4 separate regions of the Homo sapiens genome follow, and regions 2, 3 and 4 are each linked to region 1. Evidence: fine-mapped expression QTL. A gene starts in region 1. Each other region holds a variant in brackets. All regions are shown on one strand. Distances are from middle to middle. Region 1 holds the start of SNX30 (sorting nexin family member 30). Region 2 overlaps SNX30 (sorting nexin family member 30). Region 3 has its middle 17 kb from the start of SLC46A2. Region 4 overlaps SNX30 (sorting nexin family member 30).

The links. PIP is the estimated chance that this variant, and not a neighbour inherited with it, causes the effect.
Region 2: its variant is fine-mapped to the expression of SNX30 in neutrophils (BLUEPRINT, PIP 0.95). The same link has a PIP of 0.9 or more in monocytes.
Region 3: its variant is fine-mapped to the expression of SNX30 in whole blood (TOPMed, PIP 0.98).
Region 4: its variant is fine-mapped to the expression of SNX30 in whole blood (INTERVAL, PIP above 0.99).

What each region holds. Positions count from the first base shown.
Region 1 is chr9:112,747,427-112,755,589 of GRCh38, reverse strand. It overlaps SNX30 (sorting nexin family member 30), which reads right to left and starts at 4,830. Exons shown (of 9, transcript NM_001012994.2): 1 at 4,433-4,830. The coding sequence starts at 4,588. It overlaps SNX30-DT (SNX30 divergent transcript), which reads left to right and starts at 5,025. Exons shown (of 1, transcript NR_186503.1): 1 at 5,025-6,706. RefSeq lists enhancers at 1-396, 849-938, 397-1,011, 3,142-4,061, 4,062-4,983 and a silencer at 4,253-5,072.
Region 2 is chr9:112,859,196-112,867,358 of GRCh38, reverse strand. It overlaps SNX30 (sorting nexin family member 30), which reads right to left. Exons shown (of 9, transcript NM_001012994.2): 8 at 2,960-3,112. Among named protein-coding and RNA genes, the nearest start is that of SLC46A2, 28 kb to the left of the region's middle. RefSeq lists an enhancer at 143-644. The variant C/T (reference allele first, on the strand shown) is at 4,616.
Region 3 is chr9:112,903,580-112,911,742 of GRCh38, reverse strand. No RefSeq gene overlaps it. Among named protein-coding and RNA genes, the nearest start is that of SLC46A2, 17 kb to the right of the region's middle. The variant T/C (reference allele first, on the strand shown) is at 4,271.
Region 4 is chr9:112,871,095-112,879,257 of GRCh38, reverse strand. SNX30 (sorting nexin family member 30) reads right to left here. Exons shown (of 9, transcript NM_001012994.2): 9 at 4,271-8,163. It overlaps SLC46A2 (solute carrier family 46 member 2), which reads left to right. Exons shown (of 4, transcript NM_033051.4): 4 at 1-338. Among named protein-coding and RNA genes, the nearest start is that of SLC46A2, 16 kb to the left of the region's middle. The variant GT/T (reference allele first, on the strand shown) is at 2,112.

The DNA.
Region 1 (8,163 bases):
CAATTGAACAGCCTATGTGATCCTTTTCAATATATAATCAAACTATGCCCCCCTCCTGCTCAAGACCCTGAAATGTCCCCTGCCCATGTTAACTTCCCACCCCATGGCCCTAGCAATAAAGGCCAAAGTCCTCAGGGTGACCGGCCACATTCAATATAATCTGACCCCTCCCTTCTCTGCCCCCAGCCTTTAACTCTCCAATGCTCACTCTACCTGGCCACACTGGCCTCTAGGCTGCTCCCCGACACACCAGCCCTGTGCCTTCCGGCCTCTGCTTCAGGCAGTCCCTCCCCGGACAGTCTTCTTCAGATACTCACCCACTAACTCCCTCACCTCCTTCCAGTCTGCTCAAATATCAAGTACTCAACAAGGCCTGCCAAATCCTCTTCCTCGCGGCCAGTTCTCCTTTTTCCTCCTTCCATGGCATTTATGGTGTAATACAGTACAAACTTGCTGAAATGTATCCAGTGAGGGCAGGGTTTTCAGCTAATTTATTCAAGTTCCTAGAACAGTGCCTGGCTCATAGTAGGCCCTCAAATATGTATCAAATGAACAAAAAGAATGACAGGAGCCTCAAAGGAGCAGAGCCTGGTTTGTAAAAGGTGATGGAGGAAAAGCCTTCTCTATTTTGAAGACTTCAGAGGACGTCTAAGTGACCTAAGGAGGCAGGAAGTAGATGAAGAGTTCAGAGAAGAGATTGAGGATGTGGGAGGAGGTGTTAGCCACACAATGGGGCTTAAGAATCCAGTATTAAGTTTTGGGAGGGGTACAGAAGTTAGAGGCTGAGTCAGAGGAGAAGCAGCCTGGAGCAATTTACAGATGAAAGTTAAAAAAGGAGAGTAAGGCTAAGTGATGTATTTACATTTTAGATGGAGATAGCCATATAAGGTCCAGTGAGGCTCACGCCTGTAATCCCAGAACTTTGGGAGGCAGAGGTGGGCAGATCATCTGAGGTCAGAAGTTCGAGACCAGCCAGGCTAACATGGTAAAACCCCATCACTACTAAAAATAAAAAAATTAGCCAGGTGTGGTGGCAGTCACCTGTAATCTCAGCTACTCAGGAGGCTGAGGCAGGAGAATCACATGAACCCAGGAGGGAAAGGTTGCAGTGAGACTGCACCACTGCACTCTAGCCTAGGCAACAGAGTGAGACTCCATCTCAAAAAAAAAAAAAAAAAAAAAAGGCCCAGTGAGTTTAGCAGGCATCAAAAGAATTAGTCCTGGCAACCTCTGGTAGATAGAAAGGATTCCTCCTTTGGGAGCCTATGAAGGGAGGCATCACACCATGATTTGAACAATTTGAGAAATTGGTGGAGAGTCCATCATATTCAGTCTTTCTCTTCTACCCAAGCACTACAGAGTTCATTCACAAGCGTCAGCTGGACCAAGACACCAGGCTACCCTGTTCATCGCACCATCTTGGGCCCTCAGAAAGCAATTCCCCTTTGCATAATAACCCTGTACTATGACCAGCCTGTCAAACCTTCATTCCCCTGGCCCAGAACTGACGCAGAATCCCTGTCATCCAGGATCACAACCCCAGTATCTAACAAGACAAAACTGGCTTCTTTTCAAAGACAGACCATAGCACTGAACTGTCCTAACACCCCTCTGATGACCCTCATGCTGCTGAGGTAGGAGAAAGCCAGCCACAGGGAAGGCTTCCTTCTTCTGGCTCTGACTCACCTCTGTGGCTTGCTAGCTTCTCTCTACAGAAATTTCTTCAGAGTTATGAGACCATACGTGTATGCCAAGATTCAAGGAAAATGTTACTCCTAGTCAGAGAAAGAAATTACAATGCTTAGCCTCTAAGGAAAAGTGGCTTACTATAAATCAGGCCCTTGAGAATGGTGTCATTTAGATGCTCCCCACAGCTGTTAGGAGATTCATTAAATATTCAATAATTAGGCCAGGCACAGTGGCTCATGTTTGTAATCCCAGCACTTTGGGAGGCCGAGGAGGGCAGATCACTTGAAGCCAGGAGTTCGAGACTAGCCTGGCCAACATGGCGAAACCTCGTCTCTACTAAAAATACACAAATTACCTGGTCAAGGTAGCACACGCCTGTAATCACAGCTATACGGGAGCTGAGACACGAGAATCACTTTGACCAGGGAGGTGGAGGTTGCAGTGAGTCAGGATCAGGCCACTGCGCTCCAGCCTGGGTGACAGAGTAAGTCTCTGCTCAAAAAAATACATATATATTCAATAATTAATAATGCCTTCAAGACTCTCCCTCCTACACAGAACAGACCCTTTAAAGGAAGCCATCGGTAATTAGACTTGAGACTGACTTCTTCACCACTAACCAGATCTTGGTGGTACGGGGAATTTGTCTTCCAAGTGCTTATTAGTAAAATGCTCATACTTCTGAGTCAGGTATCATCCATGAGTGAATCGTTAGGTAAATATTTTAAATGGCTATCTGTAGTAGCCAGTCTCCAAGATGGCCCAATGATCCCCACCTCTTGGTATACACACCCTGATATTCACACCCTCTCCCCACATTGTACCAGTGTCAATCTGTGTGACCAACAGAATACAGCAGAGGCATGTCATTTCCAAGATAAGTTATACAAGACTGGCTAGAGTCTTGAGCTCTCTTGGATCACTTGCTCTGGGGGGAAAAACCAGTTGCCACATCAAACAGCCCTATGGAGAGTAACTAAGACCTGCCAACAGCCATGTGAGTGAGCTTAGAAGTGGATCCTCCCCTAATCCAGCCTTCAGATGACTGCAGCCCAAGCCAACAACTTGACTGCAACCTCAAGAAAGGCCTAATTCAGAACCACTCAGATTGTCCCACAGACACTATTTCCAGGTGATAAGTTTTGGGGTAATTTGCTACACAGCAATAGATAATTAATTCAGTGTCCCACACAGAACTGAGAAGGAAATGAGGTTTAACCCCCAGTTCCTACACTATTTTAAGACCAATTTTTGTCGATAAGAAAGCAAATTTATTCAGTTATTCAACATTTTTTGGAGACAGGGTCTCACTCTCTTGCCCAGGCTGGAGTACAGCGGTGCAATCATAGCTCACTGCAGCCTTGAACTCCCAGGCTCAAGCAATCCTCCCGCCTCAGCCTCCTGAGTAGCCTGGATTACAGGTGCATGCCACCATGCTGTGTGCGTATGTGGAAACGGGGTCTCGATATGTTGCCCAGGCTGGTCTCAAACTTTTGGTTCAGAGCAATCATCCCACTTCAGCCTCCCAAAGTGCTGGTATTACAGGTGTGAGCCACTGCACCTGGCCTCCATTAGCTTTTTTAATTTTCCTGTTCCTAATGCTTTGGAACTTCACTCCCTGCTTTCACAAACCCTCTGCAGAAGGTACATCAAGTCGCACTCTCTAGTGATTTTAAGTGCTCAGTGACCTTCTGACTGCAAGGAGGGCAGGTTATATTTTCTCATACTCCTTTTTCACTGTACCACATGGTGTCCCCTCTAACGGGAGAAGAAAGTTAGGTCCCCTGCTCCCATTAATATTGGGACAAGGGGGAATTCATTTAGTATTTTACTAGGGAGAGAAAATCTTGATCACAAGACCTGAGAACAATTCTAATTTCTGCAGTTAGTGACTAAGTGACGGCAGGAGCGGGGATACAATCACTGCTCAAGTCTCCTTCACAGCTGAAATGGCCATGGGGGTAGGGAGGAGGTCGTCCCTTACCCCTGCCTGGACTCTGCTGTCTCTCCAAGCAGCAGGAGGGTTGTGCTGCTCTAAGAAAATCTGGAGCCTCCCTCCGTACAAAGAAGGTCAAAGGGCGAGCTTTCTTTCCATCAACCACAAAACCAGCCTCTGCCAAACCTAAACAGAGTGGTAGGCCGTCGGAGGTGAATGGAGCCCCAGACAGAAAACCACAACGAGGCTCTCCTCCCGCCGCCGGCTGGGGTCTGAGTCAGGTGACTCCTCAGGACAAACAGCAAACCTAAACAAAGATCACTCCCCACATGACTGACTAGGGGGAAGAAGACTCTCGCTGTAAGCCCAGGGCTGCCCGGTCCCAGCACGGAAAGCCAGGAACTCCTGCTTTCTGTGCAGTCTCGGAAACTGGAGGAGCTACAAGTTATGCAGCAGCTCAGCCTGCAGGGATGCACCTGGAGGAACTCGGAACCCCATCCGAGGACACAGGCGCCCTGCCCTGAACACACGCCTCCCGCTCCAACACGCAGGCTGGACCCCTCCCCACCAGCTGTCACCGGTGCTTGCGACCAGTCACAGGCAGCGAAGCCTGTCCCTCTGCGGCTGCGACCCCGCGGAGGCGGCAGAGGAGACGCTTCGCCGAGGGCTCCGGGGCCAGGACACGCCCGTCCCCCGGGAAGGGGCGGCAGGGTGGGCGCGGCCCCAGGCCCACGAAGGCTCCGGATCCATCATCCCCCCCACGGGGAGCGAAATAAGCCTCCCACTCCCCGGCCCCAGGCGCCCCACCTTGTCACCGAAGCTGCGGGCCATCAGCAGGTCCGGGCTGGGCGTGCTGTCACCACCCACGGCCTCCTCGCTGCTGGAGCCGGCCAGCGGGTGCGGCATGTCGCGCAGGGAGTGGGGCCCCGTGGACGGCAGGGCCTTGGGGGGCCCGCCCGCCATGGCGCGCACCGCTCGGGACGCGCCGCCGCCGCTTCCTCCTGCTGCCCGCCGCGGCGAGCTCCCCGAGCACCCCGGGCCGAGCCCCGCTCGGCCGCCGCTTAACCCGAGGCCTTGCACCGGCCGTGCTGGGGGCCGCCGCCACCCGCCGGCTGGTCTCTGCCGGCGCTCAGACGCTCCGCTCCGCGCCGCGCGCCCCCGCTCCGCGCCCGAGCCCGCCGCGGGTCCGCTGGCAGCACGGCCGCGGCGCCCAGCCCACACAGCCACACCGCCCACCCGCTCCGGCCCCGCCCCCGAGGCGCCGCGGCCGCCCGGGAGGGGGCGGGGAGGGCGGGGAAGGGGCACGTGGGGAAGGAAGGACGGAGGGAGGGAGGGAGGAGGCGCGGCCCCGCCCCCGCCCGGCAGGAAGTGCGCCCTGGGCCTCTGCGGCTGTCCTCCCAGTGTCCAACGTTGCCTCGCGGAGGCCGCCGTGCGGAGCAAATGTCTAACGGAAATCAGAGGTGGAAAAGAGGTTGGAGGAGCCTGTTCCGTTCCACCCGCGTTTACTGATGCGCCCACCAGCAGCCACGCTTGGGGCTGGGGGCTTTGAGGACACGCACGTGAGTCAGGGTCTTCTGGCCTCTAAGGCACGCGCAGGAAGAACCCTAGATAGACGGAATTACGACCCATATCGGAAGAATAGCATAAAGGGCGACAAGGCTCAAATGAGCTAGAGGACATCGGGTGGGGAACCTGGAAGGGACTTCAAAGAGGCGGTGTGGGGAGTCTTCAGGCTCACTCTGAGGTCCCCATTGTGGCTTGCTTCTGCAGCTGAGCTGGATTTGTGTAAAGTCAAACCTCAGAACAGCGAGCATGAGTAGAGAGTCTCAAATGATATGCGACTCTTCAACTCACACTTTGGCCGAAGAGACTTTTGAAAGAACCATGAGGTTCAAGTTATTCTTCATGCATTTGTGCTTCCTTTCCAGGCCTTGGGCTGAGCTGATTCTCAGCTTTATTTGCTGGCGTGGTGCAAATAGTCAAGGTGTTACTTCCAGCCCTTTGGGGTGTAGGTTCACCTCCTTTTTCCACCTTACCTGTCCCTAGATCTTCTGTTTCCAAGGCCAAGTCTTTAAAGGGTTTTCAGTCCCTCTAGCAAAGTAATGGGTAGGGAGGCTCATCGTGAGGGACCACATTTTCCCTACCCATTCCAAACTCAAAGGTTTGCCTAGCCTTACCTGCTAAAAGGTGATGACAGATGTTGACTCTGGGATTCACTAAGGCCTCTACCACAGTTTTCTCTAGAAACAAATAGAAGAGAATGCAGAGGGTTGAAATCTACCCAAAATATCAGTCAGAGACTCTGAGCTTCAAAGACCTTCCCCTATTTCCCCCAATGTAATTTATATAGGGTTGGACCCTTAGTCCTCAAGCTATCATCTTTATCTCCTCCACATAAGCCTGCCTTGGCTGGGAAAAGTAGCATTCAAAGGGCACTGGGAACAATTTTAAATGCTGCATCTAAGGAATGCCAAGTTCTGGTCCTCTTGGAGTTGGATTAAAATTGTTAACACTTTCACATTCAAGGGCTGCTTACAACTACTACAGACCCTATTATCTGTTCTTCTGAATTAGCATGAAAATGAATAGCACAATATAACTAGAAATGAGTATTTCTAGAAATGAGTATATACATCTATAGATGTATAACATCGGTTTTTCTTATTGAATGGTGCTACTTATTTTAACAACCAGGCTGCCTTAAATATAATGGACATCCGTATGGATTAAGACTCTATACAAGCTTTCTCTTTAGTACACCAGGGGAAAGTGAAAAAAGAACCACATTTGAATTCGGCTTTGTCACTACAAGTGGGTGACCATGAGCAAGTTACTAACCTCAGTGAACCTGTTCCTAACCTAAAAAGGAGGAGAATGGAGAGCAGGTAATAATACCTTATGAGATGGTTGTGAGAGTTATATAGCATTCTTTATGTCATAGTCCTAGCAAAGTGCTGGCATAAAATAGGTGCTCCCTAAATGTTAATTACCTACCTTCCTTTCCCTTTCTGTCAGATTTTCTCTACTATTCTTATGAAATAATAAAGAGTTTTTGTAATTAAATATGCTTTACTATTCTGAGTAGGGTCTGGTTGAATATACATATATATACACACACATACACACCAGGTAGGGTGCCTCACACCTGTAATCCCAGCACTTTGGGAGGCCAAGGTGGGAGGATCACTTGAGCCCATAAGTTCAAGACCAGCTTGGGCAACATAGTGAGAGCCCCATCTCTATAAAAAATGTAAAAATTAGTCCGGCATGGTGGCACATACCTGTAGTCCCAGCTACCCAAGAGGCTGAGGTGGAAGGATTGCTTGAGCCTGGGAGGTTGAGGGTGCAATGAGCTGAGATTGCACCACTGTACTTCAGCCTGGGCAACAGAAGGAGACCTTGTCTCAAAATAAAAAAAAATATATATATATATACATATATATGTGTGTGTACATATATATGTGTGTATATGTGTGTGTGTGTGTGTGTGTGTGTATTGACCTCCAAAGTCCTCCATTTGCTCAGTTTAGATTGGAGTACCACTTTTCTATGCTCCCACCAAAAAAAGGACCCAGACCCAGAGTTCCTAAAAGGCCATATGAAATAGTTGATTACAGTTTATTTATTTATTTTCCAGTTTCCTGGTTGGTCGATAGCAGCTGGCCACAATATCCAGTGGGTAGTCATCAAAACTAAAGAAAGTGAATTTGTATGGAAAGTATTTTGGTAGAAAGTTTCCACGATGAAATTTAGCCCAGCCCTGCCCATTCATATTCACCATTTCCTGTGGTATTTCAGTGTTCCTTGTGGTGGGAAATTGTCACTGAAATAATATAAGTGTCCCAGAGCATGTGACTTTGCTTCTACTAAAAGGTTTTGTTTTTTTTTTTTTTTTTTCTTGGAGACAGGGCCTTGCTCTGTCGCCCAGGCTGGAGTGCAGTGGCGCAATCTCAGCTCACTGCAACCTCCGCCTCCCAGGTTCAAGCGATTCTCCTGCCTCAGCCTCCACAGTAGCTGGGATTACAGGTGTGTGCCACCATGCCCGGCTAATTTTTGTATTTTTAGTAGAGACAGGGTTTCACCATGTTGTCCAGGCTGGTCTCAAACTCATGACCTCAAGTGATCTGCCTGCCTTGGCCTCCCAAAGTGCTGGGATTACAGGCTACTAAAAGTTTTAAAAGCAGCATGGTGGTAAGGAGGAAACGTGTAACGTTTCTCCATCAGAGCAGAAGGCTGTGGTGTTTGTTGGAACTTATGGAGGGAAGCTTGGATTTCTAGGGTTGAGCTCTGAGGAAGATAGTAGATGTATGTGTGTGCATGAGGGGCGAGGGAGGTCCCCAATGCCACCAGAACCCAAGAACACAGCATGGAGCCCTCCCAATTCATAAGGAATCTTAGACACTTAGGCTGGCACCTTTCAGGAGACAGGGCTTTGGGCCCCAGAATTTAGTACGCTTACCAAACAAATCCTATCGACCTCACTAGCAAGCGTATTGGGGCTGCCTGTGAGCACCCAGACCTCAGAAACAAAGCAGTCT
Region 2 (8,163 bases), 110 kb before region 1:
AGGAGGTGGGAAGAGTTCTGAGGAGGGAGGAGGAATTCTGAGGAGGTGGGAGGAGTTCTGAGGAGGGAGGAGGAATCCTGAGGAGGCAGGAGTTCTGAGGAGGGAGGAAAAATCCTGAGGAGGCAGGAGTTCTGAGGAGGGAGGAGGAATCCTGAGGAGGCAGGAGTTGTGAGGAGGGAGGAGGAATCCTGAGAAGGAATCCTGAGGTAGGAGGAGTTCCGAGGGGGTGGGGAGTTCTGAGGAGGTGGGAGGAGTTCTGAGGAGGGAGAAGGAATTCTGAGGAGGTGGGAATAGTTCTGAGGAGGGAGAAAGAATTCTGAGGAGGTGGGAGGAATTCTGAGGAGGGGGGAGGAGTTCTGAGGAGGGAGAAGGAATTCTGAGGAAGGAGGAGGAGTTCTGAGGAGGGAGGAGGAATTCTGAGGAGGTGGGAGGAGTTCTGAGGAGGCAGGAGGAATTCTGAGGAGGGAGGAGGAGTTCTGAGGAGGTGGGAGGAGTTCTGAGGAGGTGGGAGGAGTTCTGAGGAGGTGGGAGGAATTCTAATGGGGGGAGTTCTGAGGAGGGGGAGGAATTCTGAGGAGGTAGGAGGAGTTCTGAGGAGGCAGGAGGAGTTCTGAGGATGTGGGAGGAGTTCTGAGGAGGTGGGAGGAATTCCCAGGAGGTGGGAGAAGTTCTGAGGAGGGAGGAGGAGAGAGGCATCCTAGGTCAAGCCAGAAAGAAGAGTGGTGAAATTGCTTCCTGATTCCTCCTTGGTGACTCTGAGGTTAGAGAGGAAGCTAAACTCTGAAGCCCACCTTATATACGGAAGATGATCTGGGGTCTGTGGCATTCCAGGTCCTGCTCTCTCCCTAGGCCATCACTTCAGATCTGCAATGGACTTTGTATGTCAGCCATGATAAACCAAGGCCATACCAGTTTTCTATTTGGTCCTCAAATGTACCAAACTCTTTCCTGCCCCAGGGACTTTGCGTATGTTGTCTCCTATACCTGGAATATATGTTTTCCAAGCCTCTGTCTCTGAGACTCGGATGAAATGTCATTTCCTCAGACTGGCCTTTCCTGACCACTCCACTTGCCCCTCCCACCCTTAGTCTGCATTATGCCCCCTAGTATTTTCTCCCCCAGTTTCCCGTTCTTTTCCTTATCTCACTCTGAAGCTGTGGGCTCCTTTGATGAACACATACCCTCCACAGGGCAGGAATCCTGCTGTTTATCAATTTGGTACACACTGCCCCTTGCACACAGCAAGTGCACAAAAAGCATTTGTTAAATATGTATAGAAGCAATACCAGGCCCCAAGACAGTGGCCCTGCCTGTGATATAGTGGGAAGACAGATAAACACGTACTTAAGACCAGGGTTGGGTCCTCCTGGGACCAGGACTTTAGGAACGCTGGGATTAATTACCAAAGGGAGCAACAGAGACATTTGACATAGTTGGTTTTGTAGTAGTAGGAAGGCCGCTGAACAGCAGAGGGAAGGTGTGGGAGTTACAGAAGAAAGGAACTCTGGGTAACAGACTGCACTACTGCACTCCAACCTGGGTAACAGAGTTTTTGACCCTATCGCAATATATATATATATATACATACATACATACATACACACACACACACACTCACTCATGTGTGTATGTATGTATGTATATGTGTGTATATATATGTGTGTATACGTGTGTGTGTGTGTGCATACATACATACATATATATATATATATATATATATATATATATATATATGGCGTGACAGGATCAAAAAACTCTGTTACCCAGGTTGGAGTACAGTAGTGCACAATCATGACTCACTGTAGCCTTGAACTCCTGGCTCAAGCCATCCTCCTGCCACAGCCTCCCGAGTAGCTGGAACTATAGGCACACGCCACCACACCTGGCTCATTTTGTATCTTTTGTAACGACAGTCCCACTACATTGCCTAGGCTGGTCTTGAGCTGGGCTCAAGTGATCCTCCCACCTCGGACTCTTCAAGTGCTGGGATTACGGGCGTGAGCCACTGCACCTGGCCTCGCACTGGTTTGCTGGACATACGAATCAAGCAAACCTTGATTGAGGGGACTGGGCTGTAGCCTGATAAGAGTCATCTCTATGTGTGTGTGGTGTGTGTATGGTGTGTGTGGGGGTTGTGTGTGAGGGTTGTGTGAGGTATGTGGGTGTGGTGTGTGGGTGTCGTGTGTGGGGGGGTTGTGTGTGGGGTGTGTATGTGGGGTGTATGTGTAGGGGGTGTGTGGTGTGCATGTAGTATGGGGGGTGTGTGGTGTATGTGTGGTGTGTGTGTAGTGTGGGGGGGTGTGGTGTGTGTGTAGTGTGTGTGTGGGGTGTGGTGGTGGTAGTGGGGTGTGTGGGTGTGTGTGTGTGTGCACGCGCATGTGCGTGCGCTGCTTAACCTGGTCAAGGGGATCCATGAGTAAAAGTTTTTAATAGAATTGCTTTCCTTTGTAATCCTACATCCCTTTATTTTACGTATTTAAAATCAATATTTTGAAGTCTATTTAAAAAACAAATGCACAGTATTTTGGTGAGGGGTCTATAGGCTTCACCAGATGACCAAAGGGGTTCACTGCACAACCAAACTGAAGGGACCCTGTGTACAGAACCCCAACACAGAGTAAAGTAACCCCAAAGCCTCCATTCGGTGGCAGCATCACTGTGCTGAAGGTCTGACTGGCTCTGGGAAGCAACCAGTGCCAGGCCCAGAAAGCATGGAAGACGAATGGGCTGCTTCCCCAGCAGCATGTGCAAGGGAAACCCCTGTGAGCACCCCCTCTGCTGCCAAACCCAGCACTGCAGCCACATGGTTGGGCAAGGGCATGAAGCGGGAGCCAAGACTAAGCAGCTAAAATAAGGGAAGGAGATGAGACTAGCAGGATTCCCAGCTTGTGGATTTCTGGTAGGCCCATGTGAAAGGCTCTGGCCATTAGAAACCAGTCTTGTTGGGCACACTCATTACCTTCTCATAATACTGGATGTTCTTGTCAGCCATCCCCATGAGTAGCTGCCGGAAGTCCTGCCTCTTGTTGTTCTGCCACCTCTCCATGTCAGCTTTCAGGTCAGCATTGAAACACTCCATCCGATCCTGACATTTCTCGACGTCCGCCGGTACCTGGAAAAGGGAGGCACACATGGGTGCCCTGCACACAAAACTGGCATCTCTTGCCTTGAGCTCCTCTGAGCACACATTTGTCAAAGGCCAAAGCCCTACATTAAAATGCTATCAACACGCTCCCTCCTCTGGAGGCATTTATTTGAAAGCAAAACCTTGGGTTTTCAGGTCTAAGGAGGAGCTCTGAAAAGGGGCTCTCCTAACCCAGATCTTCAAACCCATCCAAACACAACAGAGACTCGTGGGGGAAACACCCCCATTTACACACAGGAAGAAGAAACATTGCAATTCAGACTCATATGTCTTTGGTTCCTTTTAGGATTTACTCATCCACACTTGAAAGTGTGTGCAGACTTTGCAAATATACAGCATTTGTATTGCCCTGCTATTCTCCTGTGTCCCATATTGGAACTAGAGAAGAGGTAGGTTCTCCCAGATCACATGAACTATTCCATTGCTGTGACATTTGATGATGCCTTTCCTCATTAATCAGAGAATTGCAATAAGACAACTACTGGCCAGCTGCCTCCTCTGAACCCCACATCATAAATAAACTGGAGGCTTGTTTATGCTTTTCCCAATAGCAGATACTTTTAAATGGAGAGTTAGAGAAGTCTGAGAAAACAGGAGGAAAGTTACTTATGCATGTCAAAAAAATTTGAAATTCAAAGAAGAAATATACAGCAGGCTATTTCAAGTTTTTCTTAAAGAGGTTTAGAAGACTTTCTCAAAAGGGAACTATGTCACTTGAAGTTTCACAACTTTCACTTTGCTTTGGTGAATTTCACCATCCTGTGCAGCTGGAGTTTGGGCTTTGTGGCTGCAGCGCTTCCCAAAGCTGGCTTCTCTCTCCTAACTCAAGCACTTCACTGAGCCCTGATGGCGGCCAGGGAGCCGACAGGCCCAAAGCCAGGTCAAACCCCCGACCTGCCAAATGTATCCCAACCACAAGTGAGGCCTTTTATGTTTGGTGTGCTGGGGCCCATGAACCAAACTGTCTCCAAGCCATGGCTCACCCCTGGGAGTCCACTTCCACCAATCGAGGAGGTTTATACCCAAGCCTCGTGGACAAGGAGCTGACCCAGAATGATGCCAATGAGAAAGACAGGCCTGAGGGAGCTGGACACCTTCAGGGTACTCAGCCATCTTCTCCACAGACCACGTGGAGATGGTTGTAGAACACAGGAGTCAGGGAAGAGACATGGCCAAGGCAAGTGAATTTGAATGTGCCTGACACGGGAACTAGACATGGGTGAAACCAGGATGAGCTGGAGAGAGAGATAACTAGACACTCTGGAAATTTAAAAGCAAGGAATTTTTCTGTTAAGATGGGGAAAGAGGCCTTCTTCAAAGCACATAAGCTTCTGGAAGAGGGAAAAAAAAAATACTGGGCTGAGTGCAGTGGTTCATGCCTCCCAGCACTTTGGGAGGCCAAGGCAGAAGATCACTGGAGGTCAGGAATTTGAGACCAGCCTGGGCAACATAGTAAGACCCCCATCTCTA[C/T]AATAAGTAGGATGTGGTGGCGCTATGTTGTCCAGGCTGGTCTCGAACTCCTGGCCTCCAGTGATCCTCCCACCTCGGTCCCCCAAAGCACTGGAATTACAGGTTTGAGCCACCATACCAGGTCAGAGACTGACTTTTTCTTCTGATGCCATGATTTAAGTCTCTTTTGCCTCCTCCCAAGACCACCCATTACTATTGGTTACCTCAGGAAAAACTGAAATAAAAACCAGAGTATCCCAGTCTTGCCTCTCCAGAGTCACTCCAGGAATCAGCCTCAATGGAAAGATGCCCAGCGAGCCAGTGTCTCTGGCTGGCCTCACCTCCCCACAGGCACAGGCCAGTTCCCTTACCCGTCTCCTGGCCACTGCTCACACTTGCATTGGGGTGAGGGTGCCTATGAGCAACTTCCTGTTTGCTTAACGAAACTTCTGCTGTGAGGAGAAAATGGAAAGCCCTGGAAAGAGAACCTCACCAGGACACGTGGAGAGGAGGGCAGCCAGGGTCTCTGAATCAGGACTGTTCACAGAGGAAAGATTCCCAGGTTTAAAGATTCCCAGGTGTGTTCTGGAGATGGGAACTCTGACTGACCCAGAAAAATCAGGGTCTAAACCACGGCTGTGGGTTTTAGGACTGCCTGAGCCTCGGTCTGGGAAATATTTGGCTTCTCAGTTTCACAACACATTCTGTGCTTGGCACTGAGGAATACAAAAGTGCTTGGGTCTCAACAGACAAATCTTGTCTCCCGTAACCTACAGTCTAGTTGGGAAGAAACAGGAACATGCCTAGACACTGAGGCAAGATATCGTAAGTGTTGTCGCTTCCCCTGCAGCCCCCGTGATAAGCACGCTGAGGAGGATGGAGGGGGCGGCCAACCTGGGAAGATCGGGCCTCATGGAGGAAACAGCACTGAGGCGGCTCTTTAAAGATGACAGATGTGAGATGTTTGACCACTTGGAAGGCACTCCAGAGTGGCGGTACACACAAGGGACAGAGGAGAGAAGACACCAGGACCCACCGCAGGAATTGTGCACAGGCCACAGGGCCCACAGCGGCACGGAGAGGGAACTGCAGCTCGCAAGACTGGCAGAGGGTGGCAGGGGATGAGGAACCTGAGGCTCGTCCCAAAGTCCTGCTTTCCTGAGGCCCAGTTAACTCATGCCCACTCTTGGAGAATAGAAAAAGCCCCACACTTCCTCCAGCTGCAGTGGACAGCTCTAGAACCAAACTTCCAGAGCTTAGCTTGCACACCCCACCTGCCACTTACCAGGTGTGTGGCCTGGGACCTGGCCTCAGCTTCTCTGTCTGGCTAATAATATCCTCCGCCTCACTAGGCTGTCATGAGGCCAGACAGGCTAATATGTGTTAAGTGCTTTACAGCGTCCTAATTAGGAAGGGGGAGTTGGGCTGACAGGACCAAGGGAAAGCAAAAAGAGAAGGCAGATTAAGCTATACTTCTGCTTTTCTTCATGGTCCAGGACACATAGCCTTCCTGCACAAATATTAATAACACAATCTTCCTGCACCCAGCTATCACCAGACCCTCAGTTAATAGAAAAATGCAAGTTTGCTCACTGCGACCTTGGAGTTATCAGCACTGCATGAAGCCCTCTTCAGTACACAGCACGAGCACCATTCTATGAAATCCCCAGCAAGCCTTTGTTTCTGGGCAGTCAGCTCCCTTCCTGCTGATCTGCCTGTTGCACTCTTGCAATGTATTTTCCTACTTTTTCTAATAAATCTGTTTTTCTTTACCTATAATTGTCTTGGTAAATTCTTCTTACCCCTGCAACACTGGTTCCAGAGAGTCATTGCACACCTGTGACACACTTGTGCCTGGCATATAGTAAGTGCTCAATAAACATTTGTTAGCTCATATCAGTATCAATATTATAATTTGCTGTTCACAAAAGATAATCTATCCCTTGCACAGCTCCTCAAGCTTTATTCCATGTGTTATAAAACAGGTTTTCATCTTCCAAATACAAACTATATTATTATATGTTCTCCCAAACATTATGCCACCCTTTGCCAATGCTACTCCACCCTGAGATTTCATTAGACACCAGAGATGAATCATCTCCAAACTACATATTAGCATGAGATTGCACTGGGCATCCTGGAACTGGGGTTGTGGCTCTAACACCAGAAGGGAGAGGATGGAGTAAACCAACCTGGTGGAGACAGAACTGACAGATTTGGCAACTGGCTGCCCATGAGAAATAAAATACAGGGAGTCCGAGAGAAGCCTGAAGTTTCTAGTCTGGATGACTAGGGTGGCACTAATGCCACCAAAGGCTCAGAATGAAGGACAGGTCCACAGATCACAGAAAGGAGGGAGTTGCAGCCAGGGGAAGAGTGATGCCTCCCTCCACAAAGCGGGGTGAGATAACAAGAAAACCAAACACAGCTCTTTTATAAAGGCTTATGGAAAAGAATACACAACCAAATTTAAAAATGAGCAAAGGACTTAAACGTATCTCCAAAGAAGATAAACAGTCAGCTGGGCGCAGTGGCTCACGCCTGTAATCCCAGCACTTTGGGAGCCTGAGGCGGGCAGATCACAAGGTCAAGAGATCGAGACCACCCTGGCCAACACGGTGAAACCCTGTCTGTACTGAAAATACAATAAAATTAGCTGGGCATGGTGGTGTGCTCCTGTAGTCTCAACTACTTAGGAGGCTGAGGCAGGAGAATTGCTTGATCCAGGGAGGTGGAGGTTGCAGTGAGCCGAGATCACGCCACTGCACTCCAGCCTGGCGACAGAGCGAGACTCCATCTCAAAAAAATAAAAATAAAGAAGATAAACAGTCAACAAGGACATGAAAAGATGCTCAACATCATAATCACTAGTGAAATGCTAATCAAAGCCACAGTGAGATAGCACCTCACACTCATCAGGATGGCTACTATTAAAAAAAATAACAAAAACAGAAAATAGGCCAGGTGCAGCGGCTCACACCTGTAATCCCAGCACTTCAGGAGGCCAAGGCAAGTGGATCACCTGAGGTCAGGAGTTCGAGACCAGCCTGGCTGGTCTCCGGGAGGCGGAGATTGCAGTGAGCCAAGATCACGCCACTGCACTCTAGCCTGGGCGACAGAGAAAGACTCTGTCTCAAAAAAATAGATAAGCGTTGGTAAGAACATAGGGAAACTAGAACCCTTGTACATTGTTGGTGGATTGTAAAACAGTATAGCTGCTATGGAAAACAGTATGGAGATTCCTCAAAAATTTTAAAATAGAACTACTATATGATCCTGCTGGATTCCACTTCTGAGTACATATCCAAAGAAATTGAAAGCAGGGTCTCAGAGATACTTGTATACACATGTTTATAGCAGCATTATTCACAGTAGCCCAAAGATGAAAGCAACACAGATGTCCACTGATGAATGGATAAACAAAATGTGGTATGTATATGTATGTGTATGTATGTATGTGTGTGTATGTCCCATATATATGGGATATTATTCAGCCTCAAAAAGGAAGGGAATTCTAACACATTACAACATGGATAAACCAAGGACATTACACTGAGTGAAATAAGCCA
Region 3 (8,163 bases), 160 kb before region 1:
AATGTCATAAAGTCCTTTACAGAGCATAAGCTGGGTTCAAAACTGGCCTGGAAGGAAGGTGTCATTGCCCAGGTTTTCTTCTGGAAATACTCCAATGTGGACATCAAGAGGGCGGCTGGTCACAAGACAGATACACCCTCCATCCATAGTTGTCAAAAGCGTCACACAGTCAGAAATGACCACTCCAAGAAACCTCAAGGACACAGCATTCCAAACGAGTTCTCTCCTGAGTATGAGATCTTGTTATTTTGATGCAAGAGGATAAAGCCTATAAGATATGACTTTGATGCCTCCCTGTCACCCCAGGAGATGCAAAGAAAGGTCTTCTCTGTCTCTTTTGCACCTCTGAGCTCAGGGACAGATAATATCCCCATTAACAGGCTATTTTCCATAGACACTTCAGGCATGCCATTTACTCCCACCCACAGTGTTTTCGAAGAGGAATAGCTAGGAAGCAGCTGCTATAAAATCATTAGCAGAGAACAGAGCGTTAGTATGAACATAAGGCCCAGCAGCACTTGAAAGGAACTTCATATTCCTGATTTGTATCAGCTTCTTGATAGTCTGTATCTCGTTTTTCTCCCAGGAGACAATTCTGACCTCAGAAATCACCAAAGAAATATTGGCTACATTATCCAGACCTGGGATCACTGCCCTTTCAACCTTGCAGCCCTCACCAGGACAATATAGTTTTCATCAGATATGCTCAAGTGTTACAAACTTTTGCTTTGAATACTCATATTCTCTTTTCAAGCCCAGAAATTTGAAGTCAATCTCCATTTTCAAACTTCCCAGGCAGATCAATTCTGCACTGGTATAATCCAGTCATCAGGTGGGTTCTCTCCCAAGTTCTAGAGAACACTGGTTTAAACTCCTATCCTACAGTTTATGGAAATTCAAAGTTTTCTCAATATTTCCTACAGGTTTCCAGTCCAGGGAGATTCTCATATTCTCAGCTGTGGGCTGGCAGTATGATATTACCAGAAGTTGAGAATTAGGTACATTGGCCCTGAAGGGGGCACATGAGTGAATACCACAATTTCCACTGCAGCTCACCTCTCATATTTCTCTGATATCCCTTTGGGAACGACTTTCCCGTAATTCTGGTTGGCTTGTTTGCTGGGAAACTTACAAGAGAAAGATTAGTAGGATGAACTATAGCCTCTACTGCCGCAGCTATCCTGACACCATAAATGATATTCATCATCCCCTCCACCATTTACAATCCTGTCTTCCCCTCATTTTTGGCTAGTACCTCTGCTGGTCTAGGCGGCTTACCTGGTGAGGTGACCCAAACCATTCATCCCTAAGTGTCTGAGCCTTGATTTACTATGCCTTTCTCAGACTGTGGCTGCTCCAATTCTCCAACTACCGTTACCACTGGGTGTGGGAACACCAAGATGTGCTTCATGGTGGGGTCCAAACATATTCTTCCTGTCCCCCTTGAGTAGCAGTGACCTTAATTGCCCCTGCATTCCCTTTCTTACTGCTGTTCTTTTGACACATGGAACTGGAAGCGCCCCAGCGACAGCCATAGCTTAAATTGCAGTGGGATTCTTACTGTCTCCCCTGGTGGAGGCAGCCCCTTTTAGTGCTAAAGCTGCAGGAATGGAAAGCACAAATTTCCCAAGATCACTGAGAGAGATGAGAAGTGGGGCCAGGCCTACTTCCATCCCCCAGTTTCCAGGCTCATGTAGTCTACCTTTTGGAGACAGAAAACAGCACCATGCAATGGTTATTGATTTAGGGTCTCCTGGGGGATGGTACCCCATCCTTATAGGGTGTTAATTCTAAATTGAGATCTTGACTGGTTTCATAAAGGCCATTCTGCCACTCTAATAGGGTGGCTTCTGGGTGACAAAGTTTGAGATAGAAGAAGTGGGTCCCATGGCCAGGTGTCCACTATATACTTTTTTGCTGTGAAGTAGAATGCTTAGCTCTGATATTTTGCTGTTATCCAACACGCCGTTCGGTCTCAGATCATGGTACTGGCTGAGGCCCCACAACAGGAAAGACAACCCGATACACAGAATATAAGTTGAGCCTGGTCAGGATGGTATCTACTCCTTCTATTGTGCAAGGGATCCAATGCAATCAAATAGCCACCAAATGGCAGCTTAGTTTCCTAGGGGATGAGGCTATATCAGGGTTTCAGTACTGGTCTCTGGGGCTGATAGGCTGGACTTTGAGCAGAAGCAACAGCCAGATCAGCTGTCAGGTCCATGCAGAGTCTCCATCCCTACCACTGTGGCTACTCTATAAATGCACTCATTATTCCAACACCCAGGTATCTAATAACAGAAGCCAAATGATGTCAACTGGCTGAGTCACTTGGTCTGTATTTGTTGGATAATGCCTCTTCTATAACAGATACTCCAGTGGGCTAATGCACATGTGAAACAAAGATCTTCACACCTCCCATAAGTTTGCCCACATGCCTCCTCCTCAGAGCTCCTTAACCCTGATCTTTCAATCTATCTCCTTCCAAACCCCCCAGCAGACCATTTGCTACTACTCGTGAAACCATGTATATTCATACCTTGGGGAACTTACATGACCAGACATACCTGCTAGAGATTTCCCCATTGGTAGGATTTCTCACTGCTAGCTTTTAGTACCACACCTATGTCCGTCTGTTTTTGTGTTGATATAAAGAAATATCTAAGACTGGGTAATTTATAAAGAAAAGAGGTTTAATTGGCTCACAGTACAGAAAGCATGGTGCTGGCATCTGCTTCTGGTGACGCCTCAGGAAGCTTACAATCATGGTGGAAGGTCAAGGGGGAGCCAGCATATCACATGGCAAGAAGGAGCAAGAGAGAAAGACGGCAGAGGTCCCAAACTCTTTCAAACAACCAGACATCATGTGGATTAACTGGGCAAAATATCACTTATCACCAAGGGGATAGTGCCAAACCTTACTCATGAGGGATCCACTCCCATAATCCAATCAGCTCCCACCAGGCCCTACCTCCAATACTGTGAATCACATTTCAATATGAGATTTGCAAGAGACAAACATCCAAAGCATATCAATACCTAAGTAAGGGTTGTGATGCAGCTACTGTCCTCTGGTTTGTACTGAGATATCGAGTTGACCCATTTGTGAACCAAGTTTCAACCTTTTCTTCCCCTCCATCAGCTGTCATAAGAGGTTCCCCATGTGGCTGGTGCTGAAGGAGAAGCACTGGACAACATGAGATCTGGACCACCTGCTTTTGTGGCTTGCTTGTTCCTTCTGACCCTACATGTGCCCTATCCCACTGGTGTACCACTTCCATCTTATAGATTGCTGCTGGGCCCACCCAAACTTATGATGTGGTAGTCTGAAAGAAAACTTCTCATAATGGATAGTTCTGGTTGCATGATCATCTGATGTCTCTTGCTCACTTGCTTCATATTCACCAGGACCCAACAAGGATGGTGGAGAAACTGCTTTCTGAATAGTGTACAGTCATCCCTCCATATAGGTGCAGGATTGGTTCCCAGAATCCCACAGATATCAGAATCTGTGAATGCTCAAGCACCTGACATAAAATGATGTAGTATTTGTGTATAATCCTCCAGTATGCTTTAAATCATCTCCAGATTACTTAATACCTAATACAATGTAAATGCTACGTGAATAGTTGTTGTGCTGCATTGTTTTTTATTTGTATTATTTTTGTGGTTATATGGTTATTTTTCCTGGATATTTTTATTCAATGGGTGGTTGATTGAATCCATGGATGTGGAACCCATGGATACAGAGGCCCAACTATACAGTTCTCTGCTATAGATGGAATAGCCTTTCTCCAATAGGCACAATATCCTCTACTGTTCTCCTTCATGGGATTTGGGATTTGGGTAGTTTAATATTAGTTCTCTCTCTGGCATAAGTTATAGTTTAACCCCAAAAGTCAGAGATATTCTCCAGCTTTTGTCATTGATGGATATCAAAGATAATTGGTCACTGCATACCTTACCTCACAATTAAATACATCACTACTATTATGCCTTCCAAGCATCTCCCTAGTAGTCTAAACAGCCAATTTCCTTACTCTGTATTTAGGAATTTTCACCCAAATGTCCTTGCCCATCCTGTGGACTCTAGAACCAGGCTGTAAAGTAAATTCTGCCAATTCCCATGGGGAAAAGCTTCCTGGCACAATGGTATTGAGCTTTCTACAAATACCCTTGTACTATGTATCTCATAGTAATTTTCCTCTGAGCTAATGACATTATTTGGTTCTTTACCTACACTCTTTCCGAGTGATGAAATTTATTCTCA[T/C]GGCATTGACTACTAGTATTTTAAACCTTAAATTAATCACATTTTACCACCCCAGGATCTAAAAGCATAAAGGTTATCATTTTCTCTATCCATGGCCAATCTCTTTTTTAAAAAATCCTGAGTCTGATAGGCTAAGAGCGATCTATTCTTTAATTTTTCACATAATACTAACAATTTTGAACATTTGTTTCACATTCTCACTGTTAAAATGATTTCTTCCTATTTGGTTTATCTCTTCTTGTCACTTGGCCTTTGTACTGGATGCTGTGAAGCACTATCCGGACCCCCCTTTCACAGCTGATGCATTCATTCTCTCACTGTCAGTGGCTGAAAGATCTCAGCTGAGTCACTCTCTGGGAACTGGATTCAGCAGAAGAGAGCTGCCTAGCCCAAAATCATGCCCCTCTCTCTCCAGGGCAGCCTGAACCTAATGGCTGATCAATGTTGTATGGTGGGGAGTATAAAGGCGTGGCCCCCTGGCCTCAAGGTGGGGCAACATTGAAGGATCCTGTCAGCTCCCAAATTCGTGGAGGCCTTTGTTGCAACTACATCACAAGTCAACACCTCCCTCTGACAGATGCCACTTCCCTCATCCTCCTGGGTGTTGATCCCCAGAGCATGTTATAGCCCAGTGAGTTCACCTTGCCCGCTGCCTAGACAGAGCTGATTTATCGAGACAGGGGAATTGCAATGGATAGAGAGTAGTTCACGCAGAGTCAGCTGTGCAGGAGACTGGTGTTTTATTATTACTCAAATCAGTCTCCCTGAGCATTCACATTTGGAGATCGAGGTTTTTAAAGATAATTTGGTGGGTAGGGGCTCAGGAAGTAAGGAGCTGTGATTGGTCAGGTTGAAGATGGACTCATGGGGGTCAAAATGAAGTTTTCTTGCTGTGTCTTCTGCTCCTGGGTGGGATCACAGAACTAGCTGAGCCAGATTACCAGTCTGGGTGGTGTCAGCTGATCATTGAGTGCAGGGTCCGCAAAATATCTCAAGCCCTGATCTTAGGTTTTACAATAATGATGTTATCCCGAGGAACAACTGGGAGAGGTTCAGACTCTTGCAGGCAGAGGCCTCATGACCTCTAAACCTTAATTTCTAATTTGTAGCTAATTTGTTAGTCCTACAAAGGCAGTCTGGTCCCCAGGCAAGACAGGGATCTTTTTCAGGAAAGGGCTATTATCAATTTTGTTTCAGAGTCAAACCATAAACTGAATTCCTTCCCAAGGCTAGTTCGACCTACACACAGGAATGAACAAGGACGGATTAAAGGTTAGAAGCAGGATGGAGTCGGTTAGATCTGATCTCTCTCACTGTCATAATTTCCTCAGTTATAATTCTTGCAAAGGTGGTTTCAAGCACTACACAATAAACCTTCTGACCACGAATCTTTCTCTTAAGTCTGCTTTTTGGGGAGCCCAACCTAGGCACCCATTTCTTAAAGCTGGGAATATTTGTCTTATTCTTAATGATTTTTTAAATATATATTTATTTATTTATTTATTTATTTGAGACAAAGTCTGTTTTGTCACCCAGGCTGGAGTGCAGTGGCATGATCTTGGCTCACTACAACCTCTGCCTTTCAAGTTCAAGCAATTCTCCTGCCTCAGCCTCCTGAGTAGCTGGAATTATAGGTACCCACCACCATGCCCGGCTAATTTTTGTATTCTTAGTAGAGACGAGGTTTCACCATGTTGGTGAGGCTGGTCTCGAGCTCCTGACCTCAAGTGATCCACCCGCCTCGGCCTCCCAAAGTGCTAGAATTACAGACGTGAGCCACCGTGCCCAGTCGATTGTTTTAAACTTTAAAATTGTATTAGCCCTTAATGTTGTATAGGTTGATTGTCACTCAATTTATTTTTATTTTTGCAGAACAAGTTAAGTAGGTGAGGTAGTAGAACAAAAAACATACTGTTGTTGTAGGGCAGGAAGGGGTGGGAGCCCCTATGTGCACATAGGGTGACTTATGGGGCAAAAGGGGTGAATAACCAGCTTCCCACTTCCTAATCTCAGCCTTGCTATCAGCTTTGTTCCCATGAGCTGAAACATGCATATAAAAGTCTTTAATAGGCATAGTCAACTCTAATCAGATGATTTTAAGACTATGAAATGCTGGGCGACTGGCCTGTGGAGAAAGTACCCATTAGCCCCACAGAGCACTTGCAACAAACTCTGCAGGATAGGAATGCAAAGGTCATTCGCAGTTCACACAGCCCGTGCTTTCCCTGAGCCTCAGATGTGTTTCACCCTGGGCAGCTCCTCAGGAAGCAATGGAACAAACGACCTCCTCACAATGTGACCATGCAGATTCTAGTCTGTGCACCTACACCCTGGGCCTACTTTTAGCACCAATTGCCTCCCAGTCCCCAATCTACAGGGCTCTGGAGTCCCGCTCCTCAACGTGCAGGAATCCTAAGGCCCTGAGAACCACCTGTACTCTCTTTTTCAACCCTAGATTCAACATTTTTGTCACTCCTACACACACACACATACACACACACACAGAGAGAGAGAGAGAGACACCACTATTCTTTTCCTGGCAGCCACGGTGGCACGCAGTTGCCCTATCTGACCAGCAGTCCCTTACCCCTCACAGAAATGGTAGCTCTTCCTCTTCTGAGACAAGACATCATGCATTGGGGTTTTTTTTTTTTTTAGTTTTTAGTTCTTGTAGAGACAGGGTCTCACTGTATTGCCCAGGCTAATCTCAAACCCCTGGGCTCAAGTGATCCTCCCACCGTGGCCTCCCAAAGTGCTGGGATTACAGGTGTGAGCCACCGCACCTGGCCAAGAGTTCATGTTGGATATGGAAGAGATTGTTGGCTCCAGTTGGGGTCAGTGACAGACTCCTGAACTGAGGGGCTCCAGTGTCTGATCCCTTTTCTCAGCACAGAATAGGTGTTCCAGTATCTCAGTACTCAGAGGCAGTGAAAGAGTGAGAGATTGAGCCCTATCCTCTACCTCTACAGCAAAACTGAGGCCACAGCTAGAAAGGGTTGAGGACTGAATTTACCAAAACAGAGTGCTAGGAGCTTGGGGTTTTGGAAAAGGACGAATTGTGGACAAGTTGAGGATTGAACTGTCTACATTGGAAGAGAATGAGCAGTTATTTGTCATCTGGACCCAAATCCCCAAAAAAGTCTAGGCCTGGGCTTGGCTGATCTTCTACATGACAGAGGGACAGAGTCAAGCATCTCTGCTTTCAGACGTCAGTTACAGCAGGTCTCATTTTCATAGTGAAAATTGGTAAGTTTGAGAAAATTCACCCCACACAATATTTTCCCAAGACATGTTCAGTGGAAAAGTATTTATCTTTACATAGTTTAAAAGCTCAAAACTGTCCAGAAAACAAGACAAAGGTCTCCCTTAGGGTGTCCTCTTCCCATATAACATCTCATCTACATCTGGCCCATCTCACCTTCTTCCCAGCAGCCTTCTCCAGCTCAAAGAGAGGCCAGCCCTCCATCTCTTCCTCTTTACTGTACGATGTTCCATTACTTGCTCACCATCTCTCTCTCTCTCTCTGTCCTAATTTGTTTTTGTTTTTTTGTTTTTTGTTTTTTGTTTTGAGACAGGGTCTCACTCTGTTGCCGAGGCTGGAGTGCAATGGCACAATCTCAGCTCACTGCAACAACCTCCGCCTCCCAGGTTCAAGCAATTCTCACACCTCAGCCTCCTGAGTAGCTGAGATTACAGGCACATGCCTGTAATTTTTGTATTTTTAGTAGAGATGGGGTTTCACCATGTTAGCTAGGCAGGTCTCAAACTCGTGACCTGAAGTGATCTGCCGGCCTCCGCCTCCCAAAGTGCTGGGATTACAGGTGTGAGCCACCGCCCCCGGCCTCTCTGTCCTAATTATTTAATCAGTTCCTCGCTACTCGCTCCTCTCTCTG
Region 4 (8,163 bases), 120 kb before region 1:
AACAATGTCTTTTAAATTAAAATAAAACCTTGAAAAAAGTCAGCTTTCTTTCCTGAGTCTTCCTTACCTACAAACACTCAGGAGGGGGATGGAGCTCAGGCCCTTGTCTTCTGGGTAGTTTTGTTACTACTGTTGCTTTTAAGAAGCAAATGTCACAAGGCTTTCTTCAATGGGATGTTCAATTGAGTACTTCCAGTCAACAGTGCTTCCCAAAGTGGGTGGTGTGAAGGAAGAGGAGGTACATTAAGAGCTATTTTATTTGAGGTAGTCATTTTTATAACCTTGTTTACTTGGATTTATAAAAGCAGACTCACCTAATAAAATCAACATTCATTGTATGAGTGTGTGAATCGTTCCTTCCCAGGTCAGATTCTGTCTGTGACTACAGACTTGATGTTCTTATACAGGATAAAATACACGGCTGCAGAATACATTCAAGGTATTTGGGCTCTGAGAGTTTGTATCTCTAATCCTCTTGCAGGGAATGAACAAAACTCTATGACACATCTAATAAGGTCCAGGCCCCATGCTAGGTGCTGAGATACAGAAAGAATAGCACGTGACTGTGTCTGCCCTAGCACAGTGTACTGTCTATCAGGTGAAGCAGACAGAACAGCAGATAGGGATGTCTCCTTCCACTGGGAAGGAGCCAGCACCCTTGCACTGAGTCAGGCAACATGAGCAGAGCAGATGGGATGGGAAAGATGAGTTCAAGAAGTTCAAGATCACGTTCAACCTCTCCAACCTCACTAATATAAGGGAGCACGGAATCCAGATTTGGGAGAGCAGGAAGGGCATCCCAGAAATGACTTCTATGACAAGGCTGGAAGGGTAAGTAGCAGTTACTAAGGCCAGATGTTGGGGGACATTCCAGGCAGAAGGAACAACTTGCTGGAAGGCCTGAAGGTGAAAATATATCAAAGGTTTAGGAATTCAGTGTGAAGGCAGCAGACGGAAGGACAAGTATTACGGAGGACAGTAAGATGAGACTGGGGTGGTAAGGAGGAATAACATAAAATATCCTTTCAAAAGAAAAAGATGTTTCTCTTCAGAGTAAATGGGGATAGCTGTTGGAAGGTGTTAAGCAGGAACACAGAGTGCTTAAATTTGCATCTTAGAAACAGCTCCCTGGCAACACTGAGGACAATGAATTGGTGGAAGGAGTGAGCAAGCTTGAAGAAAGGAGATGAGCTGTGAAGCCCTTGCAGTAAACCAGGTGAAGGATAATGGCAGACTGACTGGCCAGCCTTGGTGGCTCAGGCCTATAATCCCAGCACTCTGGGAGGCCAAGCTAGGAAGATCACTTGAGGCCAGGAATCCAGCACTAGCCTGAGCAAATAGCGAGACCACTATCTCTACAAAAAAAATTAAAATTACCTGGGTATGGTGGTGTGCACCTATAATCCCAGCTACTCAGGAGGCTAAAACGACAGGATCGCTTGAGCCCGAGTTCAAGGCTGCAGTGAGCTATGACTGGGCCACTATACCCCTGCCTGGGTGAGAGAGCAAGATTGCCTCTTAAAAAAAAAAATTAAAGTAAAAAAATAATAGCAGACGTAGGGTAGGAAGCTACAAGCATGGAGAAAAGTAGATGGATATGGAAAAATATTTGGGAGTTAGAGGCTACAGGAGTTGGTTAATGGATGGATGGTAGAGGGTGAGGTAGATGGAGGCCAGAATGACTCAGATTTGGGGCTCAGGCCACTGGGAAAAAGGTAGCGCCCCCCTCCAACCCCAAGAGTCTGGCAGCATGAGCAGAGCAGATAGGATGGGAAAGATGAGGTCAAGACCATGTTCAACCTCTCCACCCTTACTCATCAATATGCTCATTCCCCAACTCCTTACCTTCTGGTCCAGCCTCTTGACCAGCTCCTCAGCCTGAATGAATCTAATCGTTCCTACTCCTGAAAAGCCTCTTACTGTTTAGAGAAATGTCATTCCTTGTCCACATTGACCGTGCTATATAAACTTGTGTTTTTTAACCTGAGCTGAGCTCTCAAAGCCCAAGTATTGGCTCCTTTTCAACTCCAGCTGTCACCAGGGTAGGAGTTTCAAACCTTGTCAGCTTTTCCAGGGTCACCATTTCTTCTAACAGATGTTCTAACCCAGGG[GT/T]TCTTGGGCCAGCAGCAGCAGCATCACCTGGGAACCGGTTAGAAATGAAAATTCTGGGATCTCACCCAAGTCAAACTCTAGGACTGGGGCTCAACAATTGGTGTCTCACAAGCCCTCATTTAAGAATCACCATTCTCACCTATGGGGCCCGATTTTTTCTCAAGAATTTTCCCTGAGTCCTCCTTGTCTCCCTGCATCCTTTTTTTTTTTTTTTGACAGTCTTACTCTTTTGCCCAGGCTGTAGTGCAGTGGTGCAATCGCAGCTCACTGCAACCTCCACCTCCAGAGTTCAAGCAATTCTCCTGCCTCAGCCACCTGAGCAGCTGGGAATACAAGCACGCACCACCATGTCTGGCTAATTTTTGTATTTTTGATAGAGACAGGTTTCGCCATGTTGGCTAGGCCGGTCTCGAACTCCTGGCTTCAAATGATCCACCTGCCTCGACCTCCCAAAGTGCTGGGATTACAGGTATGAGCCATTGCACCCTGCCTGTATTCTTAATTCTTGAGGCCTCCAAGGTCCTGTCCTTGGTTCTCTTCCCATGCAATCTAGTCCACCCCCATGGACTCCAGAACTTCATTTCCAACAGCCAAGTCAACATCTCCACCTGGATTTCCTCAAACCTAAAGCGAAACCAAGTTCTCCTTCTCACACCCCACCACCTAAGCTCATTCCATCTTTTTTGATTTTTAATTTTTGTAGAGACGGGGTCTACGTTGCTCAGGCTGGTCTTTAACTCTTGGGCTCAAGTGATCTCCTGCTGTGGCCTCCCAAAGTGCTGGGATTACAGGAATGAGCCACCACGCCCAGCCTCCATATTCTGTCTTTCTCTCCTAATTTTAGCTAATGGCATCGCCTCCAAATCCCAGGCTGGCAATCTTCCAGTCATCTCCGGTCCATTCTCCTCCCCCCAAGAATCTCTTAAATCGGCTATTTTCACCTCCCTTTATCACTTCTTGCCATGGCTTTTGGAATTTATTCCTCCCCATTCTTCAGGCCTTCAATCTGACACCGTCCTTCAGTATTTTATTTCCATCACCTTGTTAAAAAGAAAACAGGGCCAGGCACAGTGGCTTATGCCTGTAATCCCAGCACTTTGGGAGGCCAAGGCAAGCGAATTGCTTGAGCTCAGGAGTTCAATACCAGCCTGGGCAACATGGCAAAACCCCGTCTCTGCGAAAAATAAAAAAATTAGCCGGGCATGGTGGCACGTACCTGTAGCACCAGCTACTCGGGAGACTGAGGCGGGGGGACTGCTTGGGCCTGGAAGGCAGAGGTTGCAGTGAGCTGAGATCATGCCACTGCACTTCAGCCTGGGTGACAAAGCAAAAGAAAAAAAAAAGAATATCCTGTTAAACAAAAAAACTGGCAAAGCATACATGAAGGATTGTTATCCTTAATATTTAAATTGGCCATATCCTTAAGGATAATATCCTAATAGCCTTAATATTTAAATTAGGAAGTCTTTAGAAAGGGGCTATCACAGTGAGAAGCTGCCTGACATTTAAGTGCTTTGCATACCATATTGCTAGTCCTATCGACAACCCCATGTGGAAGTCTTGTTTTCATCTCAAAGATCGTAATACTAAATATTCAGCCAAGTGTGACTTGCCTAAAGCCACATAGCTAGTAAGTGGAAAAGCTGAGATTTGATCCATGATCCACGTCTTATTCAGCTTGCTGCCTTATTTTGTATGACTGCAGTCTTAAAGTAAGTCAAGTTGAGCACTATTTTAAATATACTCAAGTTCAATGCATTACCATCATCAGGTCAACTTAACTGGCCCTGATGCAGAATATAATGTTGTGCTTTGCTATGGGATAACACAGGAAATCTTTCATGTAGTAAATACCTCAGCTGGCTGTCGGCCTGCCTGCCAGTCATGATGGCTACTACACTAGGAAGTTTCTTCATCTCCCCAGATTGGTGCAGATGTGGAAGATGTAGAAGAGGGTAAATTGAGGGTAAACTGGGCCTATAAAGAAGTGAAGAAGAATAAAAATAGTTCAATTATATATATTTTTTCCTGTCGCTCTGTATGTCTTGATTCTTACAGGCAAACTGAAAACTTGTAAAGAGAAAATAAGAAAACAGAAAAATAGGCACACATGTTTTTCTGCCTTACAAAAAGGTACAAATGAGGACATGACTCCAGATAAAGAAAGCATCTTTTATGGGTTTATTGGTCCTTTAAGTTAATTGAAGTAAAGAAACTTTAAATTTACAAGCTAATATTTATCAAGCAATACAAATTCTTTTGTTTACCTCAAAATGTAATACTAATTCCATAGTAAACAACAATTTTTTTATACACAGATATATGAAAAAAGTGGACAAAAACCTCGTGCCAGCATCAAAAAGTCAACAAAAAAACGATTCTTTTTCCATTTTACAATCTCTGGTTTCCATAACAAACAAAAAAAAGGGTGACATTCTTTTTAAAGTTTGGTAGCTTCATGAAACAAAGACTTCCATCTGTAAATAAATCACTTTCTTATCAACACACTCTCTCAAGCACTTTTTTTATCACAGCTTTTGTTTTGGCATAATGGCAGCATGGAGAGAAGGTAACATTTACACGGTGGACTACATCAATACCTCAGAAGGTTTTTATTTTAAAATTTTAAACGTAAAGAATGACTTTTAAAAATAAGATGACAGTCCATAATGTGGACATGTCCAAAGCCGAAGTTTTTAATCTCTTCTTTAACAGTTAAAATACAAGTTAGAAAGTTTGCTGGCAGTTTATTTCACAGGAATATATCAGATGGACATCATCTCTCAATGCACTCCCAACTCACAGCAATGAAGGGAACAGGCACACAGAAATACAACAGACAGGGAATCCACCAGACTTCATCCAAACTTCAGGGGTGTCTAGGCCAAAAGCGCCTTTAAGAGATGCTGGTTTGTTATTGGATAAAGGCCGAGATGACAGAGCCACTGCTTCATCACACTGACTCACATTTTGGTTTGCAATCCACTTTCCTCTCTCCTCATTTCCACATGGAGGAAAAAAAGTGATTTTCCTTTCCTCCTCCCAGTAACATTTCTGACTGAAGTGTTGGTCTAAGACTGCGAACAATCAATCCTGTCCAACAGGGGTGTTGCTGGGTGTCACCTACTAGGACCAGCCTACAGAGAGCCCAGAACCACCTGGTGTGGGAGTGCTGCTGCTGACAGAGAATATGCAATGCTCCTCGCCACTGGTGTTAACACTAAAGGCTCTGCTAAAATGGACTAAATTACATGAGTCAACATCATGTTTTCTGTTTTTGGCATTTCAACCCATAGAGAATTTCTATCTGAAACAAGCTGCTCTGAGGCTTGAAGATACCCCCCAGTATCTTCAAAAGCTGTTCTGCAGAATCAGGAGTAACATTTAATACTGTTGTCATCTATAGCATTCTTTGTTTCTACGTGATTTGTCAATGCCGATACTATATCCTCTAAAATCAAAAGTATGCCAAAAGGCACTAATCTTTCACACTTAAAAAAAAAAAAAAGGTTTTGTGGTCCCTGTGTTTCCTTACATTATCAAAAATATCATTTGGCAAAAGCAGTCCTTAGTTTTCCCCTCCCCAAAGCCAACCCTAGTGATGGCCCTCACTTTCTTGCTTGTTTCTTTAGGGGGCCTGAGGACTGACTATGTTAGATCTCTATATTATTGAAGCTGAACAACTGATTACATTTCTAAAACTCTTTCTACCCAGGACTTTTAAAACACTAGGTGAAGAAGAATAAGGCATATTAGTAGGTACGGACAAATTCTCAAAAAAGTAGAGTTGGGCTTTGAAAAGTCTGTGGCATTTTTTTAAATTCTGGATTTGTTGATTTTCAAGTGCTAAATACACAGAATGTTTATATAGGAGACAAATATCTTATTGGTTTGTTATTTTTTTAAAGCACTTATTTACAGACTCTCTGTAGTAGTAAAAACTACCTGGAAAACATATTTTTCTGCCACACAGAAAGGGTTAGACAGTCATACTCAGGATGTATCTCAAATTATGATGAAGAAAGAACAGTCTAATCCCCTGCAACAAAGCCCCCACCCCAACCTTTCTAACACAGACAACTTACACACACTCTGATACATGTAACTGTGAGACCAGGCATCTCTCAAACAAAAAGCTGACAATCTACAGGGTGGGTTGGTGAAAAAATGGATTCCTGGTTTATTCACTGAATTGAAAAGATCACAAGGCAGAACAAGGCCGAAGAGAACAATTCCAACACACCCAACGCAAGCTGTGAGGCTGGCCCAGGAGAGAACATTTTCCTCAAATTTACTGATACAGGCCTCCTGCCATCTGACAGACAAGACACAAGAAATGAGAGGGTGTGTCCATCTGCTGCCATCTTGAAGGCTTTTGGAAGTGAGACAGGAAACCCAAGCTCCCAACCTAAGTTTGTAAATGAGGGTGGCCAAAGCAGGGTTGCCCCAGCCCTATAATTGGATCACCCAGTTTCCACAGGTCCTTAAAGTAGGTGTCTGGGAAGGTGGAGTCCAGACTGGTATGCCCTGTCCTGACCACAGGCAGCCCATCTTCTGAGAAGAATCACCCTCAGTGCAGCCAGCAACCCATCTGGCCAGACTGGAACCCAGTTCTAACCCACCCCAAGACCCAAGGAGAAGAGGCTGACATAGGCCTTGGAGGTTGCTCTTGACTTCCCTCTTCCTCCTCTCTCACCAGCTCAAGAGAGAACGTAAAGAATGACTGTCCCGCAGTCCAATGAATGGTGTCAAAACAGAGCCCAATGCCTGTGATTTCAAAGCTAACGATGGCAGGACCAAGTCACACAGTAACTCTGGATGTTCCTCGGGCTGCCATCCCAAAATTCCACTTGCAGACTGCCACATGGTCATCGTGCCCTCCTCTAAAGCAGAACTTCCTGTTATTTGATCACAAAAGGCAGCCTCACAAGAAGTGAGCAGCAGGTGTGCATTCATTCAACTTCCCCATGTGGAGTGGGAACTGGGAAAACCATTCAAATCAACAACATCTAGAGCACACTCTGGGTGGGGCTGAAATCTGGCATGAAAACAGACTTAGCTTACAGTCACCATGATCTCCAGGTCATGCTGGTTTATTTCAACTAAAGAAAGGTGTCTGGTGAGTTGAAGGAATGACGTGGTGGAATATGGAGCCAATCATCTCCATAATCACACTTTAAGGTGAACAGGATTCATTATAAAACTTTTATTAAAGGATAAAACCCAATGCTAAGCCTGGCTGGGTGGTATGTTCCCTCCCCATTGAGGAGCAGTGGTTCCTCGCTCTGAGCAGAACAGCCTAGAATGTTCGTGTAGATCTACCACATTAGTAAGAAAAAGCAGTGCCCATGCTTGCTACAAATCACAAGGCTCTCTTAAACATCATTTGCGTCTCTAAAATCTGCTCAGTTCCTAGGACTCCTCTCTTCTGTCTTCCTCTGGATTTTTAACCCGGGCGAATGAAATCTCCCACTTTCCAGGCCTGGGGCGGCTGCTAGGGAGGGCCTTGTATTCCACTGCCATGTATTCAAGCCTCAAAACCTATGTCTGTCTGCTTGAGGTAAAGTAAATAATAATAATAATAAATACTTAAGAGAGGAGTACTGATCTCAGGGCCACAATTTTGTGAAGTCAAGAAGTGTGAGGTGATGAGACCTCTACAAGGCAGTCTTTGGCACAGAAGCCTCCGTGTGACACTTCTAGGGAATATCTCTTTTGTGCTTGGTCAAAACGAAGAGGCAAATGGTTGGGACTGCTGGCCCTCAGAGGCCCAGGGGAGCCTGCTTCACCACCTAACGTCCCCTTCCTTCTGGGCCAGCCTCCTCACCTCATGAGACACCAGCCTGGAGGCTGGGAAGGAATCCTTTCTCTGGAAGGACTATTTCTCCCAGAAAATCTGTAATGTACACTGGACTTCCTGGCTCTGTTATCAATAACATGCCAGGAGGACATAAAGTTTGCCTTGTTCCAGGTCTTTCTGATATCTTACAGCACAGGGCATCACATGGGGACCAAGCAGAGCAAGCCCAAATCCCACGGTGCCTGCCTCCC